2 separate regions of the Homo sapiens genome follow, and region 2 is linked to region 1. Evidence: fine-mapped expression QTL. A gene starts in region 1. The other region holds a variant in brackets. All regions are shown on one strand. Distances are between the middles of the regions.

Evidence for each region. PIP is the estimated chance that this variant, and not a neighbour inherited with it, causes the effect.
Region 2: its variant is fine-mapped to the expression of DRC3 in transverse colon (GTEx, PIP above 0.99). The same link has a PIP of 0.9 or more in esophagus muscle, fibroblasts and subcutaneous fat.

The regions. Positions count from the first base shown.
Region 1 is chr17:17,969,488-17,977,809 of GRCh38, forward strand. It overlaps DRC3 (dynein regulatory complex subunit 3), which reads left to right and starts at 3,375. Exons shown (of 14, transcript NM_031294.4): 1 at 3,375-3,487; 2 at 4,365-4,475; 3 at 8,095-8,271. The coding sequence starts at 8,112. It overlaps TOM1L2 (target of myb1 like 2 membrane trafficking protein), which reads right to left and starts at 2,913. Exons shown (of 15, transcript NM_001082968.2): 1 at 2,775-2,913. The coding sequence starts at 2,826. It overlaps LOC107984989 (a long non-coding RNA gene), which reads right to left. Exons shown (of 3, transcript XR_001752801.2): 3 at 8,069-8,322. RefSeq lists enhancers at 2,406-2,975, 3,347-3,666 and a silencer at 2,617-2,666.
Region 2 is chr17:18,014,049-18,022,370 of GRCh38, forward strand. It overlaps DRC3 (dynein regulatory complex subunit 3), which reads left to right. Exons shown (of 14, transcript NM_031294.4): 13 at 2,016-2,147; 14 at 2,510-2,841. The coding sequence ends at 2,623. It overlaps ATPAF2 (ATP synthase mitochondrial F1 complex assembly factor 2), which reads right to left. Exons shown (of 8, transcript NM_145691.4): 6 at 7,697-7,809; 7 at 7,075-7,190; 8 at 3,973-4,638. The coding sequence ends at 4,501. Among named protein-coding and RNA genes, the nearest start is that of ATPAF2, 21 kb to the right of the region's middle. RefSeq lists a silencer at 3,107-3,401. The variant C/T (reference allele first, on the strand shown) is at 4,633.

The DNA.
Region 1 (8,322 bases):
ACTTTGACACTTTGTCACAACAGTACGGAATATACATTAGAACCTAATTCTGTCCATTAATCATTTACCTGAACTGAACTGAAATGACCTATTGGCTACCTGGCAGTGGGGAGCCATCATCATCTTTAGTCAAGCATCTTATGAGCAATGGTGAATCCTGGGGCCTGGTAGGGTATTTTCCTTCACAGGTCACAGACGGGCCAGTTGTTTCACATATCCTCTCCAGATAGAAAATCCAACCCTAACTTAAATATTCTGTTATTAACAGTGGCAGTTTCAATTTACTGAGCTTCTACTATGTTCCAGATACTATGCTAAGTGTTTTCATACATTATCTCATTTAAACTACATTACTCTGTGAATAGGAATCTTTCTCTCTCTCTCTCTCTCTCTCAGAAGACTGACAAACTAAACCTCAGAAAGCAACACAATTTTCTGGGGTCACACAGCCAAGAAATGGGGGCCAGGTCAAAATTCAACTTAGGTCTCCCTGACAGAAGTATCAAGCTCTTTCCACTTGCTATATATCCCTATATCTCTTATATTTGGTTTTTTGTTGTTGTTGTTGTTGTTTGTTTGTTTTTTGAGACAGAGTCTCACTCTGTCGCCCAGGCTGGAGTGCAGTGGCACAATCTCAGCTCACTGCAAACTCCGCCTCCCGGGTTCAAGCAATTCTCCTGCCTCAGCCTCCCGAGTAGCTGGGACTACAGGCGCATGCCACCACGCCTGGCTAATTTTCTTTTTTTTTTTGGATTTTTAGTAGAGACGGGGTTTCACCGTGTTAGCCAAGATGGTCTCGATCTCCTGACCTTGTGATCCGCCCGCCTCAACCTCCCAAAGTGCTGAGATTACAGGCGTGAGCCACCGCACCCAACCACATTTGTATTTTAAATCCCCTTTAACTTCTACCCCTCATTTACTACCTTGTCATTTTAAAGGTGTAGAGCTTCCTATTATAAAGGGGACAGAAAGGAAAACAATTCTCGCAAGTTTTCTGGCTCCCTCCATTAACTGGCTGGAAATTAGTTTTTGGAGTGTGGCTGCCATGCAAGAGCACCTGAAGAGAGTGGAAAAGGACATGGGGAAGAAGTAAGGAAGTGAGAATCCAGAGACTCTCCAGTGGGCAGCAAGAGACAAGATGTCAAAAAGGTGGGAAAACACTCTTTTGGGGTCCCTCATGCATTATAAAAGATACTACGCCAGAAAGTAAAGAAAGGCTCCTAAATGCTAATTAGCCAACAGGAGAGACCTCAATAAGTTTATAGGCTCCACTAAAGGCTGGAAAGTAAGCTAAAATTTCATAAGCAAAGCAGAAAATAAACAAATCACTACTGCTGAAATCAGGCCCATAAGAACACCAAAGATCCTGGCTCATAAAAGACGTTTTACCAGTCCTTCAACCAACCAGGAGGAATCCAGTTTTCAAACAAACTAATCAGCATTCTTGACTGATCAAGTGGCATAAGCCACTGCCTTGGGTAAAAAGGCAAGTTGCTTTCTTAGTAAGGAAGTCCCATATGGTGGCCATTTCAGTATTCCTTTACCTACACTTTGGGCTTTCCTTATCCATGATTCTGGCCATCTCTGGTGTCCCCAGGTGTCCACATCCCCCCTATAGGATTAACAGATAATGCTGAGTACCATTCTCTCTACATTGCCAACAAAAGATTTCAGCTTTGGTAAACTTAATATGAGGTGGGGGAGGAAGCAACAGTCAATGTGCAGAGTACTACAAAGAATATCAAAACTTGAGAACTTTAAGGGATCTATCACATCTCATCTCCAAACACTTTGACAGACAGGGGAACTTCAAACCAGAAAGGGCACAAGGTCATATGGAGTCACTGACAAAACCACTGCTAGAGTCCAGGCTTCCATGATTCCCAGTCCAGGGCTCTTATCATTAAATAACACAGCCTCCCTTCTTTCCTGGGAGGCACTGCAGGCATGCCATCCCCCTGCCAAGATAATCACCCTCCAAGAGCCCCTCCTCCTATCCCAGTCCCTCCTACAGCACAGCTGAGTTGCAGCTCAAATTAGCAAGTCCCGGAGCAGGGGGCATTTCTGGGAGGGTGCCCAGTCTGAGGGTTGCTGGTACCGAAGAGGAGGGACAAAGATGGAGAAGAAGGTGACATCCCACAAAGGGTTTGGGAGAACTGGGTCCTTGGGGCAGTGGCAGTGAGCCTGCTGGGCTGGATAAAGACACATGCAGTGGCATCTCCCAAAGCGCATTGGGGAAGCAGACCAGCAGTTGGCACCACCTCTAGCAGCAAAAGGAAGGGCTGAGCCTTGATGGGCAGGGAAGCCTGGGGCATCTCCGAGTCCAAGTTGGGCCTCAGGGGTGCCTCCTGGCAGAGTGGCACTGGCGCGCCCGTGAGGTGGCACCAGTGCCCGGGAGGAGGCCCGAGGACACAGATGCCCTGCCTGCCCGTGGGATAGCACCGGCACCCGGCGAAGGCCCAGCCCCCCCGGGAGGTGGCACCGGCGCCCGGCGAACGCCCGACGACCAGGATGCCCAACCCGCCCGTGAGGTGGCACCGACGCCCAGTGAAGGCCAGACGACCAGGATGCCCAGCCCGCCCGTGAGGTGGCACAAGCGCCCGGCAAAGGCCCGACGACCAGGATGCCCAGCCCGCTCGTGGAGTGGCACCCGCGGCTGGCGGAGGCCCAGCCCGCTCGTGAAGTGGCACCGGCGCCCGGCGGAGGCCCGCGGTCCTCACCAGCCGGATCAGCGGCCGCCGTTGCCCAGCCTCCTGCCCCACACGCGGCCTTACCGAGGCACTGCCCCACTGGTGTGCTGAACGGGTTCCCCAGGAGGAACTCCATCTTGGGTGGACAACACGCAGCGGCCCGGGCCCCCTGTCTGCCACCTAGGCCTCCGCTGTAACCCGCCGGACTCCCGTCCTGACTGACACTTGCCCCCTCCCCACTCTCTGGAACGCCGAGCTTAGGGCCTTTGGCCCCGCCCCCTTGCCGCGTCTCTATTGGGGGACACCTACGAAGCCCGCCTCCTATTGGTCGTTACACCTCTGTCAGCAAAGCCCCCACCCACCCCGCAGCGTCCGATTGGGCGGAGGAGCGAGCTAGGTCACCGGAGTCCCTGTCAGCCGTGGCGGCACCTCCCCTGGCCCGCCCCCAAAGGGGAAGCTGCGCATTTTGATTCCTCTGTATATTGGTCAATCTAAAGGATTCTTACTATTATTGGACAAAAGACGAGTCAATCACGCAAATGGACGGAACAGAGGTGAATCTAGGAATATCCCCGCCCATAGAAAGTACTGATTGGAGAAACATTTGTTTTCTCTACGGCTGGTTGGTGTAAGGAGTGTTTCACCACACGGAGATGTGGTCACGTGACTTGTCAACTTTCACCCAGGATGTCTCCCTTCTGACTTCCCCTTAGCAACCAAGTCGCGGCGCTTGGTTCCCCAGCAACCGGGAGACGCGTCTGCTGCGTGGAACCGCCGAGTTCCCAGCGCTTGAGAAGGTGAGACCTGGGAGCTGAGGCTCCCGGAGGACTTGCAGGGACAGATAGTGCCCGACGTAACTCTTTCCTGTGACCTTTTTCTCGGAGAACGCCGGCCCGGCCCTTCTCATTTATAAAATGAGCACGTAGGTCCTCTCCCAGCCACTTTACAGTCGTGTGAGACAGCCAAGACACTTTAGTCCTGGGCTTGTCAAGCTTTTGAATAAAAAAAAAAAAAAATACTAAGGAAGCATTTCCCGAGGGAGCAGGGCCAGAATGGATTTTTAAGGGGTTCCGTCTTCCAGCCTCCTTTCATAGAAAGAGAGGTACCCGGTCCACTGATAACTTTTCCCAGAATTTAGCCATCATAACTGACCTCATAACTATCAAATGATTTCATCTTGGTACTGTATATACCGCTTTGGATGTGAATACGGCTACTCAAGTTCTGTATCCGTCTCTGTCAGTAACTCATTGTACGACTTTGGACAAGTTCCTTTACCTCCCTGGAGCCTCAGGTTCCCTAGCTGGGAAATAAGGGCATTAGGACTCCCTTTTTATGGCCTCCGGAGCTTACATGTACTTAAATAATGCATGTGCACTGAGCACACAGTAAGCATTCAGTAAGTGATTGATTTTATTCTTTTTTAAGAAAAATTTTGTTCATTATTTATTTATTTATTTATTTTTTATTTTTAAAAATGGAGACAGGGTCTTCCTATGTTGCCCGGGCTGGTCTTGAACTCCTGAACTCAAGCAGTCCTTCCACCTCGGCCTCCCAAAGAGCTGGGATTACAGGTGTAAGCCATCTCGCCCAACCAATTTTCTCCTTATTAATTCATGGCCAATAGGGACTATAGTTTTCAGATCCTGTTGACTTCAGGTTATCATTTCCCAGGAAAATTCTGGATCTGTTATCTGTGAGGAGGCCACTCCGTTGACAGTTGTGTAAAACTCTGCTGCTTTCCCCAGCTCCAACCTCTCTGGTCTTCAACAACACTATCATCAGGCAAGTCAAAGGGGACCCAGGTTGGGTGGTAAACTATAAGATCCCCATAGAAGAGGACTGTTTGGGCCTTGGCCCTGAACCCAGGACAACTGTGAGAAACACTGTGAGCTGTGGCAATGATAGTCCCCAGTACCCTGGATACAGTTGAGTCATGATTAGGAAAATGAACTCTGCCACGTGCTAAGTGTATGAAGTTGGGCATGTTAATTAACCTTTTTAACTAGCTTCTGTTTTCTTATCTGGATATTGGTGAGTATTAGCCCTACATGTAAATTAAGTTTCTAGAAATTTCTCCCATCTACATCTTGCTAACACCCTGGTCATCTCTCACCTCAGTACTTTTGCAATTCTCAGTACTGTTGCTAGAGTGAGCTTCTTAAAAACTAAGATCTGATCACATTGCTTCCCTTATTTTTTTTATTTTTTGAGATGGAGTTTCGCTCTTGTTGCCCAGGCTGGAGTGCAATGGCACGATCTCGGCTCACCGCAACCTCCGCCTCCCGGTTTCAAGCGATTCTCCTGCCTCAGCCTCCAGGGTAGCTGGGACTACAGGCATGCACCACCATGCCCAGCTAATGTTGCTGCCCTTATTAAGCCCTAGGTGCTTTCCAGGGATTCTAGGATAATAACAAAACTCCCACAGACCTCTCCAAACTTGCATCACTTCAGCCAAAGTGCAACAAGTCTGTTCTCTCCCACCTAAAGGGCCTTTCCACAAAGTTACCTCCTCCTTCTTTCCTGCTTGTCCTTCCAATCAGCCCTGTCTTCCTTGGCCAGGCCAGGTGCCCCTAATGTACAATTTCATAGTTCCCTACACCTACAAATTGTCATGGTTTGTAGTTAAATATTTGTATTATTGTTTGATTCATGCCTGAAGCTGGGTTAAAGTCCGTCTGTTTTATTCACAGCATATAGCAGTTACTCACTACCCATGTGTGGACTAAATACGTGATCTCACACAAATGCAGAAGGGAGAAATTATCCACCTTTTACAGATGGGAAAGCCAAGGCTTAGATAGGTGAAGTGAGTTGCCAAAAGATGCACAGTCAGGATCCAAATCCTGCTCTGATGTGCTTAACAAATAGCATATGTAATAACAATCCCCCATTTCCTAGCATAGCAATTGCTGGGCTTGACTGAAAGCAAACTTGATCTGTCACAGGTACCAGGCCCTGATGAAGTAGGAGGGATAAGTCAGTTAAAGTTTTGAAATCAAAATTAAGAGTCATTTCCCAAAGTATAGCACCTTTTTTTTTTTTTTTTTCTTGATGGAGTCTCGCTCTATCACCAGGCTAGAGTGCAGTGGTGCACGATCTCGGCTCACTGCAACCTCCAACTCCCTGGTTCAAGCGATTCTCCTGCCTCAGCCTGTCAAGTAGCTGGGATTACAGACATGCGCCACCATGCCCAGCTAATTTTTGTATTTTTAATAAAGTCAGGGTTTCACCATGTTGGCCAGGATGGTCTTGATCTCCTGACCTTGTGATCCGCCCACCTCGGCCTCCCAAAGTGCTGGGATTACAAGTGTGAGCCACCGCGCCTGACCTCCCCACCCCCCCCCCAAAAAAAAGGCCAAACACTTTGCAGAAAACATCAGCCAAATATAACACATTAAAATTCCCCCAAAGACAAGTTGATGACAAGTTATGGGAAACCGCAGGGGAAGCCATTGCATAAGAGTGGGGAGCTAGAGAGAGGCCGAGGTCTGGAACTGTCTTTGGGGGTAGAATCAGTCACCCCAACGAGGTGGAGCCAGTGTGAACAGATTGGAGAGAGTGGGAGGAAAAGGACCAAGGTCTTGGGAGGACGGAAGGCACAGGTGGAGAAGGGGTAGGGGTTGAAGGGTGTGGAGGCTATGCCTCCCCTGGAAGCAAGAGAGAAGTGTGCACAAGAGCTCATTGGGACATTTGATGAGGGACAGTTCAGGGCAGAGGATGCATATTTGCAGAAGCTGCATCCAAGTGGATGGTCAGGGAGGCAAGAGGAGGGCAGTCTTAGAGGGAAGTCTCTAAGACCAGGTAACAGGATTGTATGGCCCAACCTGGCTTTTCAGCAGACACCATCAGCCCTGCACCAGGAGTTTCTCCAGCAGTGCCCAGTGGAATGAAAAACAGAGCACAGGGGCTGCCTAGCATCAGGGACCAGCAGGGCAGAAGGACAGGAGGTTCAGGGAGGCCCAGATGCTGGGAAGGCATGTAGACAAAGATAGGAAGTAGGGCCAGCAGGGAGGCAAGAATCAGGGGTGGAAAGTGGGGGAAAATATCCCTCCTGGATGTCCTCACCAAGAGGGTTGATAAGGATGAGAATGTGGTCCAGCCACGAACGGCAGCCTGGAGTCAGCCTCACATTGTGACTGACCAAATCTACAGATCCCCCCTGTGCTGTGGTGTCTCAGTCAAATCCCTCTGGACCATTAGCAACAGAATCTACTGGAGGCTGGGCACGGTGGCTCATGCCTGTAATCCCAGCACTTTGGGAAGCGGAGGCAGGTGGATCACCTGAGGTCAGGAGTTTGAGACCAGCCTGGCCAACATGGTGAAACCCCGTTTCTACTAAAAATACAAAAAATTAGCCAGGCGTAGTGGTGGACACCTGAAATCCTAGTTACTCAGGAGGCTGAGGCAGGAGAATCGCTTGAATCCGGGCGTTGCAGTGAGCTGAGACCGCGCCATTGTGCCCCAGCCTGGGCGACAGAGCGAGACTCTGTCTCAAAAAAAATAAATTAATTAAATTAAAAAATAACCTACTGGAGCTAGCTTAAGTAGAAGAGGATTTCATGTGAGAAACAGGAAACTCTCATGAGGCCTGGACCTAGGGACATTAGGGACTGGAAAGCCAGCAAGAAGGAGGCAGCCTCTGTCTGTGTCGATCTGTCTGTCCTTTGTCTTTTGTTTTCTGATTCCCAGGTTCCCATCTCTGCTTTTCTCTGTGCATCTGCCTCCTCCCCCTCTTGCTCTCTGCTTAACTATGTACCCAGCCAGCCCACACTCCCTATTCCTCCCCAGCTCAAGCAGCCAGCTCCGATGGGCACTCTCATTCCACAGCCTCAACTTCACATCTCCCACGGGGAGGACGTGAATGGGCAGCTTGGGTCAGGGGCTCCCTCTGCACCAGGAGAAGCTTGTGGTGTGGTGTGGGGCATACACACATGACGGCCTGGAGGGGGTGAGGTGCTCAAGGAAGAGGAGCTGCAGGCTGACAGGCCTGGCTGGGGCTGCCCAGGGAGCACAGTCAGTGGTTGGTACCCACAAGCCCAAGTGAGGATGGGCATACAAAGTCAGAGGCCTGACACAGGGCCACAGTCATAAGATGAGTCAAGATCACAGGCTAGGGAGACCAGTGTGGACACCAGTCCAGTGGGTCCAGCGAGGGTCCCAGCTGTGGCTGTAGGGTCAAGGGATGAAACCCTGTGGACAGGCCCAGGTGGTTGCCAGGAAGCCCTGGAGCAGCCTTGGCGTAAGTATACAAACCCCGAGATGCAGCAGACCCAGGGCTGGGCGTGGGGCATTCCTCAGAGTGCCAGTGGCCACAAGACACTACAGGGGGAAACCTCAGCCAGACCCTGCCCTCAAACAGAGAAAGAAGCAGGCCGTGAAGGAAGAATGCGGTGTTTTTTAGGGAAAACGTGGGGGAAGATGAACCAGCCGTGCAACTCGATGGAGCCGAGGGTGATGGACGATGACATGCTCAAGCTGGCCGTCGGGGACCAGGGCCCCCAGGAGGAGGCCGGGCAGCTGGCCAAGCAGGAGGGCATCCTCTTCAAGGATGTCCTGTCCCTGCAGCTGGACTTTCGGAGTATGTATCCAAGGTTCAGGGGTGGTGGCCAGGGTGGGCCCTCCCTGGCTT
Region 2 (8,322 bases), 45 kb after region 1:
TAGCCTTCCAAGTAGATGGGATTACAGGCACCCGCCACCATGCCCAGCTAATTTTTGTATTTTTATTCACCATATTGGCCAGGCTGGTCTTGAACTCCTGACTGAGGTGATCCACCCACCTTCCCGCCTTGGCCTCCCAAAGTGCTGAGATTACAGGCATGTGACACCGTGCCCGGCCAGTGCCAACGTGTTTAAACAAAGAAGTTGCTTTGAAAGAAATGTGTCTTTACAGCCACAAGGACCACAGAGCAGGGCAACAGCTCAAAAAAGACTCAGGAATACCTGTTTGCACAGCCCCTGCCTCCACCCTAGTGCTTTCAACCTGCAGAAACTGGAGAGGGATCTGGAATATTCTACCCATAAAAACTATTCTAAGAGGGAAAATTGAAGTAGCCACCACTCTAGGCCACCCAAAGTCCAGAAACAACTTGTAACTCACATTTCAAAACAATTCCCTTAAACCCAGTTTCCTTTTGTTTTCATTTTACAAATGTCACACAGTTTTTCATAACCAATTCTAATCATGTATGTTTCTAAGCAGATTTCAGTTTCTGTTGCTTCTCACAGCTTTTGAAGCTGTTTTCTACATATTCAAACTCTGAGGGGTATGATTTCTCTGCCTGGCTTAGAGCTCCACTATGACCCACCTTTTAGAATGAAGGATGAGAACCTTTTCGTGATGGGTTGACACTGTGGTTGTAGTTATCTCTAAAATAACCAGGACACCCACTCCTAAGCACACTGCCAAGGCTCACCGAAAACAGGCTTTACACACCTTTGAACCATTCCCAGAGCCTGGCCTGGGACCTTGTACACACATGGAAAGAACTTAATAATTTCTTGACATTTCTCCCTTGTGACTGTGCTAATTGGTCCCCCAGACACCCCATTCCACATATCAGCTAACCTGGCTTTTCCCACATGAGATTATGTGGAAAATCAGCATCCCACAAGACATTAACAGGCATTACTCTGAAGTCTGTAGCCAAAAAAGTTGGAAAACCAAGAGAGACAAAGCTTAAAGGGTTTATTTTCCACAGGACTTTGTAGAGCCTTCAGAATACTTTGTGCCCAGCAAATCTTTAGGAGGGGCCTAGGATGTGCTGGCTTTCCCAAATGTATTTGACCAAAGAATACTTTTTTTGGCAGAAATATTAACATCTTAAGATTGCACAGAACGTTTTAGAGACCATTAAGTTAACTGCCACTACAGGAAAGAACAAAAAATGCACACTCCACTTGCAAATCCTCCCTGCAATACAGAGCATTCAGGTGCTCTGCCTTACCAAGCGCCTCTGCTTCAAGGTGGAAGCAACTGCTTACTGAGTGCTTCAGTGGCCTTGCCCTGCTCTGGGAAATGACTCCATTTCAACCATCCCAGGCAACAATAGCCACAGTGTCAACACCTAGAACCAGTGAGGCCTATTAGAAGGTGGTTGTTTCTAACAACTTTTTACAAGACAGCAAAGTCAGGAACAAGAGAAGGCAGAAGGATACTCCAAATGGAATCCAAAGTTTGGTTTTGTTGACATGAGTGGCAGTGGAGAGACAACTGTGGGGTGAACACCCATGAGTTTGTAGGGCCTGCTGTCTTCAGAGCAGCCTCGAGACCCTCAGCCAGCCTCATGCTTCCACCCAGCAGGCAGAGGTTTTGGGCAAGTTAGACTTGAGAGTAATTGAGAGAGAAGCATTGTGAGAACAGATGTCCTGGGTGAGGTGCCCCCTGGGCAGCCATCTGCCTTCACCCTGGAGGAAACATGCTTCCAGCGGGGACTGCAAAGTAACACCCTGGTTGGCCCTTTCCCCACAACACCTGCCCTGTGCAGTTGGGGAAGCGGCTGTCACAGATGAATTCACAGATGAATCGGCAGAGTGCGCTGATACAAAGGTGGGCTCTGCTCTGAGTGTGGCCTGCACAGCCAGGGGACTTCCAAATGCTCCTTCTCTGTTCAGCTCCCTTTGTGTTCACGGTATAATGACACACACTTTCTCATTGGATTCTTTTCACTCACCAGCTTTTTGTCGATAAAGATACGATTGTTAATGCTGTCGGGGCATCGCACGACATCCACCTCCTGAAGATTGACAATCGAGAAGATGAGCTGGTGACCAGAATCAACTCTTGGTGTACACGTTTAATAGACAGGGTGAGTCAATCCCAAGCCATCCTAGCAGGCTGGATGAACTTTTCTAGCTGACATGGAAATCCTCCCTAGGTAGTGGATAGAATTTTCATTAAGGAATGAAATGAAGGAAGAAATAAAATTAAGGATTATAGAATTCCACACTGAAGACAACATTGCCCAGAGACTTTAAAACCCATGGGCTTCATCATTTTCCTAATTCCTACCTCAAATATACAGAGATCAGCAGAACCTGGGGAGGCGCTGAAGCAAATGAGGTTTGCAGATCTAAAGGAACTATTTTCCCCTTCCCTCAAACTGGATTCAGTGAAAGATATTAACCAATGATCTGATGTAAGGAATCGGGCTTTGGTTTCACTCCTCAGATTCACAAGGATGAGATCATGAGGAACCGCAAGCGCGTGAAGGAGATCAATCAGTACATCGACCACATGCAGAGCGAACTGGACAACCTGGAATGTGGCGACATCCTAGACTAGATGAATGTCAGCCACAGGAGCTTCTTCAAAACATAGCACCAGCCCCAGCCAGGAGAAGGAAGTGCACACGCCTCACCCGCACCTCTAGAGAGTTGCTGGGCATCTCTCAACCGCGATCCCCAACACCATTCTTCCCCCACCCCTGGAAAAACTTCCAAAAGTAGAGAAAATAAAGGACTCATTTCACATTTCCCCTACTCATAAAAAAAAAAAAAAAATCAGCTGGGTGCGGTGGTTCACGTCTGTAATCCCAGCACTTTGGGAGGCCGAGGCATGCAGATCACGAGGTCAGGAGTTCGAGACCAGCCTGACCAACATGGTGAAACCTTGTCTCTACTAAAAATACAAAAATTAGCCAGATGTGGTAGCGTGCACCTGTAATCCCAGCTACTCAGGAGGCTGAGGCAGGAGAATCACTTGAACCTGGGAGGCGGAGGTTGCAGTGAGCCAAGATCGCACCACTGCACTCCAGCCTGGGCGACAGAGCGAGACTTCGTCTCAAAAAAAAAAAAAAAAAAAAAAAAAAAAAAAAAAAAATGTTCATGTAGGAACAAGAGAAAGAGTTTGAGATGAACAGCCGGTCCCAGGCCAGCTGACAGAGCAACTCCCAAGGGCACTGCCATCAGCTAGATTCTTGGCTGTGGCATAAAGTCAGACACGTGCCCCTGCCGTTTCCCCTGCCATGCCTAGGCAGGCTGCCAGCCACAGGCAAAAGGAGGCCGGTGTGGGCTAAGACCTTCTCTGCTCTGGGTGCTGAGGGGCAGGGAAGCAGGAGGAGAGGCTGCAGCTCCCACCACAGTGCTGGGGCCTGGGCCTGCCCACCAAGGCTGAGGTTAGCCACAAGGACCTGAGGACCCTCCAGAAGAGCAGAGTGCAGGCAGGGCATCCCAGCTCCACCATGTCACCCCCGCAGCCCTGGTGTCATCTGTGACAGTACCTCACAGTGCCTTCGAGGAACAGTTCAGGGAGACAGTGCATGGGAAGCGTGGAGAGGCACCCAGCATGCGATCAGTGCCCTGTGAGCAGGGTTGATGCCATTACCTTACTCAGGCTGGCAAGGACACAGGGCTGAGAGAGCCTGTCTGCCTGAGAACCACTCTTCCCCCCTGCCCTCTTACTGGCCTGACACCAGAAAGTAGCGCCTGCCTCCTGGGACACTAGAGGTGGCTATGTCAGGAGGACCCTTAGGACTCCTGGGTGGGAGATGAGCGGAAACATGCACATCAGGTGACCTTGTCAAGCCTGTCCAGGCTTTTAGCCCAGAAACAACTTCTATTTTCTACTTTCTAGAGTAAATCATTTGTTTTAGAACAGTAGGAACAAATAGAAACAACCAGCTTAGACCACAATTGTTTCAAAAGATTGTTTGATTAAAAGCCAGCCAAAAAAAAGCCTTCAGGCTGAGGCTGAAGAACACAAATAGAGTTGTCTGTGGATTACATGATTGTTTCCCCAGTGCAAGGTTCCTGACCACAGGCAGCAGATATCCAAACACGCCATGGGAGATAAGCTGTTTAACCCTCTGGAACCTAGACAAAACAGGAAGAATGGAGAAGTGCAGAGGCATACGTGAAAACAGGGCTCAGCACATTTCCAGGGTGGAGAAATATTTAATAAAATCAGAGTCGAGAGAAAGTCACTTGCACAATTCATCTCCTACATTCACTGCTGGCCAGGCCAGGGGCACCTGGGTTGAAATCAGGCTGACCTCCGGACAGCCGTACTAGCGCACTGTGTCTCGGGGGGAATCTCAGGGTGACGCTGAGGCCGAGTCCCCAAAAGCCAAGGAAGCCAGCCCCACAGGCTGGGGAGCCCTGAAGGCCGGGGGAGCTGTGGCTGCACTGCCTCTATCCTGCTGAGTGTGCTCTGCCCAGGCCTCACTCCTTCAGGAGCTTGTGCTTGACTGTGGTGCTCTCGGAGCAGAGATGGATGAAGAGGGTGCCGGCGGCGGTGCGGGCCCGCAGCTCCTGCAGCTCATAGTCATGGGCCCACTCAATGTTGCCCCACTT[C/T]TGGATCTGAGGGAAGGACAAGACAAGTTGCTGGGTGAGTGGCCAGTGCCTGGCTGCCTCCTGACCAAAGCCACGTTCCATTCCAATAGGTTGGCTGAGGGCAACAGGTTTGTATCTTGCCAAAACACATGAGACATGCCTAGGGGGAGGTGGCAGGTAAGAACACCCAGGTACGCCAGACACGGTGGCTCACGCCTGTAATCCCAGCACTCTGGGAGACCGAGGCAGGAAGACTGCTTGAATCCAGGAGTTCAAGACCAGCCTGGGCAAATATGGTGCAACCTCGCCTCTACAAAAAGGTTTAAAAATTAGCTGGGTGTGGTGGGGGTGCACCTGTAGTCCCAGCTATTTGAGAGACTGAGGTAGGAGGACTGCTTTGAGCCCAGGAGGCTGAAGCTGCAGTAAGCCAAGATCACACCGCTGCACTCCCACTTGGGCAACAGAGCAAGACCCTGTCTCAAAAACACCACACACACACACACACACACACACACACACACACACACCCCACCACCCCACCCCCAGGGAGCCGGAGCAGGCACCTGTGCTCTCTGTGGCATGGATGGTCTGGAAGAAGTGCAGTCCAGGCCCAGGCCCAGGGCCAGTGGCTGCCCACCCACCACTGGGCAGGCTGGGTACCAGAACCACCCATGTGACTTCTTTGAGGAGGCCTTATGTGCCATCCCTTCTCCTACACTTCCTCCCAGAAAGCCTGTGAATGGACAGCCTCTCCAAGTTGCCTTGCCATGCTGGGCTACAAGTGCCCCCCAGCGCCATGTGGGTGGAATAACTAAATCAAGTAAGGCCACGCAGTGGCTTCAACTCTGACTCTTGTGGTAGTCACAGAACTACAGATGCCTCTGCTCTGCACACTGGGGACAAGTTGCAGATTCTCTGTCTGGAGCTCTAAAAACAAGAGGGAGGAACGCTCAGACACACGATGTGGCTGTCCAGACAGTGTAAGTCCAACCAAACCTTGCTGGCTCCTCCCTGGCTAGTTGCCCAAGAGGCCTGGCCTGGCCGCCCCAGCTCATCCAGGAACTCAGAATCCACCATGCTACACAAGCTATTTGAACTTCTGGGCTGCCTGGTCCCAAACTGTACAATTGTAATATGTCATCTGAAGAGTATTCCATACTTTCATTGTATACCATCACATACATAATTCAGGTTATTCCTCTGTTTGTAGAGGATCGAAACCAAAGTTCAGAGAATGATGGCCTGGCTTGGGTCCCATAGTCAGAAGCAGAGCCCAGACTGGCTTCCCACCAGCCCTACAAGTCACCCCCTTCCTATGTAATCAGTTCTGACATCCAGAGAATAGTAGCGGGCCTCCTTTGTTATACAAAAATAGTTTTTTCCCTGGCATTTTTCTGAGCAGAAGACTACAAGAACTAGGGAAATACATCACAAAAAGTTTTGTGTTTTTTTGTTTGTTTGTTTTTACCATATTAGGGACCAATTCATAATAGCAATTAACCTTCTGAGGTTGGTGGAATAACAATAAAAAGACTGCAAAGATGGCTATAATTTTCAGAGTTAAAAAATGCAAACCATACTGTGGCAAAACCTTAATTCTGAGCCCACTAAATCAAAACTTGTATACAAACAGCAGCTACCCCTATGCTCCTCTGCCAGCCAGATAAAATGTCAGGGTATGAAGGCTCAGCTGATGAAGGAGCACAAACGGGTTCTCAGTCATCTTGGCAGGGCCTGTTCTGCAGGCTTTATCAAGCCCAGATGGTCTTTATCCACCCGTGAACCTCCTTGTGCAGAGTGAGGCCTGACGGCCTTGGCCCTAAAATCACCAGACCTGGCTTCAAACCCCAGCTGGCACATTTTCCAGAGGTGCAACCTTGCACCTCCATTTCCTTCTGTGTAAAACAGAGATAACCACAGCTCCTACCTGCCCAGGCTGCTGAGAGGAGGTGAGATGGATACAATGCAGGAACACAGCGGTAGCACTTACTGTTATTTTTTTATTGTTATTATCTTACCTTTTTTTTTTTTTTTTTTGAGACAGGGTCTCACTCTGTCACCCAGGCTAGAATGCAGTGGCACAATCCTGGCTCACTACAACCTCCACCTCCCAGGTTCAAGCAATCCTCCCACGTCAGCTTCCCAAGTAGCTGAGACTACAGGTGCTAATTTTTGTATTTTTGTAGAGAGAGGGTTTTGCCATGTTGCCCAGGCTGGTCTCAAACTCCTGACCTCAAATGATCCATCCTCCTCAGCCACCCAAAGTGCTGGGATTACAGGTGTGAACCACCATGCCAGGCCTACTTGACAATACTTCTGCTGGTCCTTGATTTTGATTTCTGCGTGTACATAAAAGTAATAAAAGCCAAGTATGCATAACTATATTTCAGATGGGTTAGCTGCTCCCCCAAAGTGAGTCTGAACTAGGAAGGGGGAGGCGGGACCTGAGGTGCTGCTCCTCACCTGGTACTCCTCCTCCAGGCGTGACAGCAGCACGGCCTGCTCCACTGTCAGGCGCAGGTCAATCAGGCCCAAGGTTAGCACCATGGACTTGAGCTGGGCAGCTACAAACTCAATCCCTGCAGGGACACAAGCCAAGTCAGAACCCAAAACAGGGCAGCTGCCACAACCTACCCCTTGTGAGTCCCAGCAGCCCTAGCAGAGAACAGGAGTGAGTGGTGCAAAGAGCCATCCAGCGATTGTCCCACTCTTCTGAAAGAGCACTCTGGTCTTCCCTGGGGGTGATCCTCCTCTGCTCTTACCTAGTGAGACACATGACCCGAACTTGGCAAATCAGAGCTTTCCGCACCCAGTCTAGTGATTGGTTCATGGATGGACATGTGACCCAAGCCAGGGCAATGAGATTGAACTCAAGACTTCTGCTGGCGAAGTCGAAGGTGGAAAGGTGTGAGCCTAGAGCGTAGAGTGATTGGCTAGCATCAGAGCCACCCAGCCTCCACACTCAGCTAGCCCAGAACACTCTGTGCCTCTCCACTCACAGGACCTGGGGAGGGGCAAGTACAGGCTTCAGACACTGATGGCCTTCACAGCCACCTGCCAAGCCCACAAGAAACTCCATACATGCCTTGTAAAGCCCATGTGTTGTAAGATGCCAGGTGGCTGACGAGCACCTCCCGAGTTTTGGCAGGGATGCTGGGTCCCATTATGCTGGTGGAGGAGCTGATCTCCACGCCGTATCTGAAAGGAAAAGGGCTTCGGCATGTCTCTGTCATGCTGTAGCCCAAGAGCAGCCCACCTTTTGACTAGAAACAAAGGCCTAAGCTTCAGAGCATGTGTGTGCATTGGCCAAGGAGCTAGTCTTGACTACAGGAGCAACTGCCACCATGGTCAGTGGCCTCCCGACCTGATTTTCTGTCCCTCAAAAGCAAACTTGGAGGACCAAGAAACTGTGCTGAATGAAGGGATGGTTCCTGAGTCATGTGAGCTAGGGCTCGGTTATACGCAGCTGCCTGAAATGCTCATTCATTCACCTGGAATCTCCATCAAAAGGCCATCTGCCTTTTACATCTCTTTAAAGTTTTTCACATTTGAGGACATATAAAAGTTAAAAACAATATTTAAAATGGTTTTCCTTAAAATAATGTTTATGTCATATATCATGGAGGTTTTCTTTTTTATTGAGACAGGGTCTCGCTCTGTCACTCAAGCTGGAGTGCGCTGGCATGATCTTGACTCACTGCAGCCTTGACC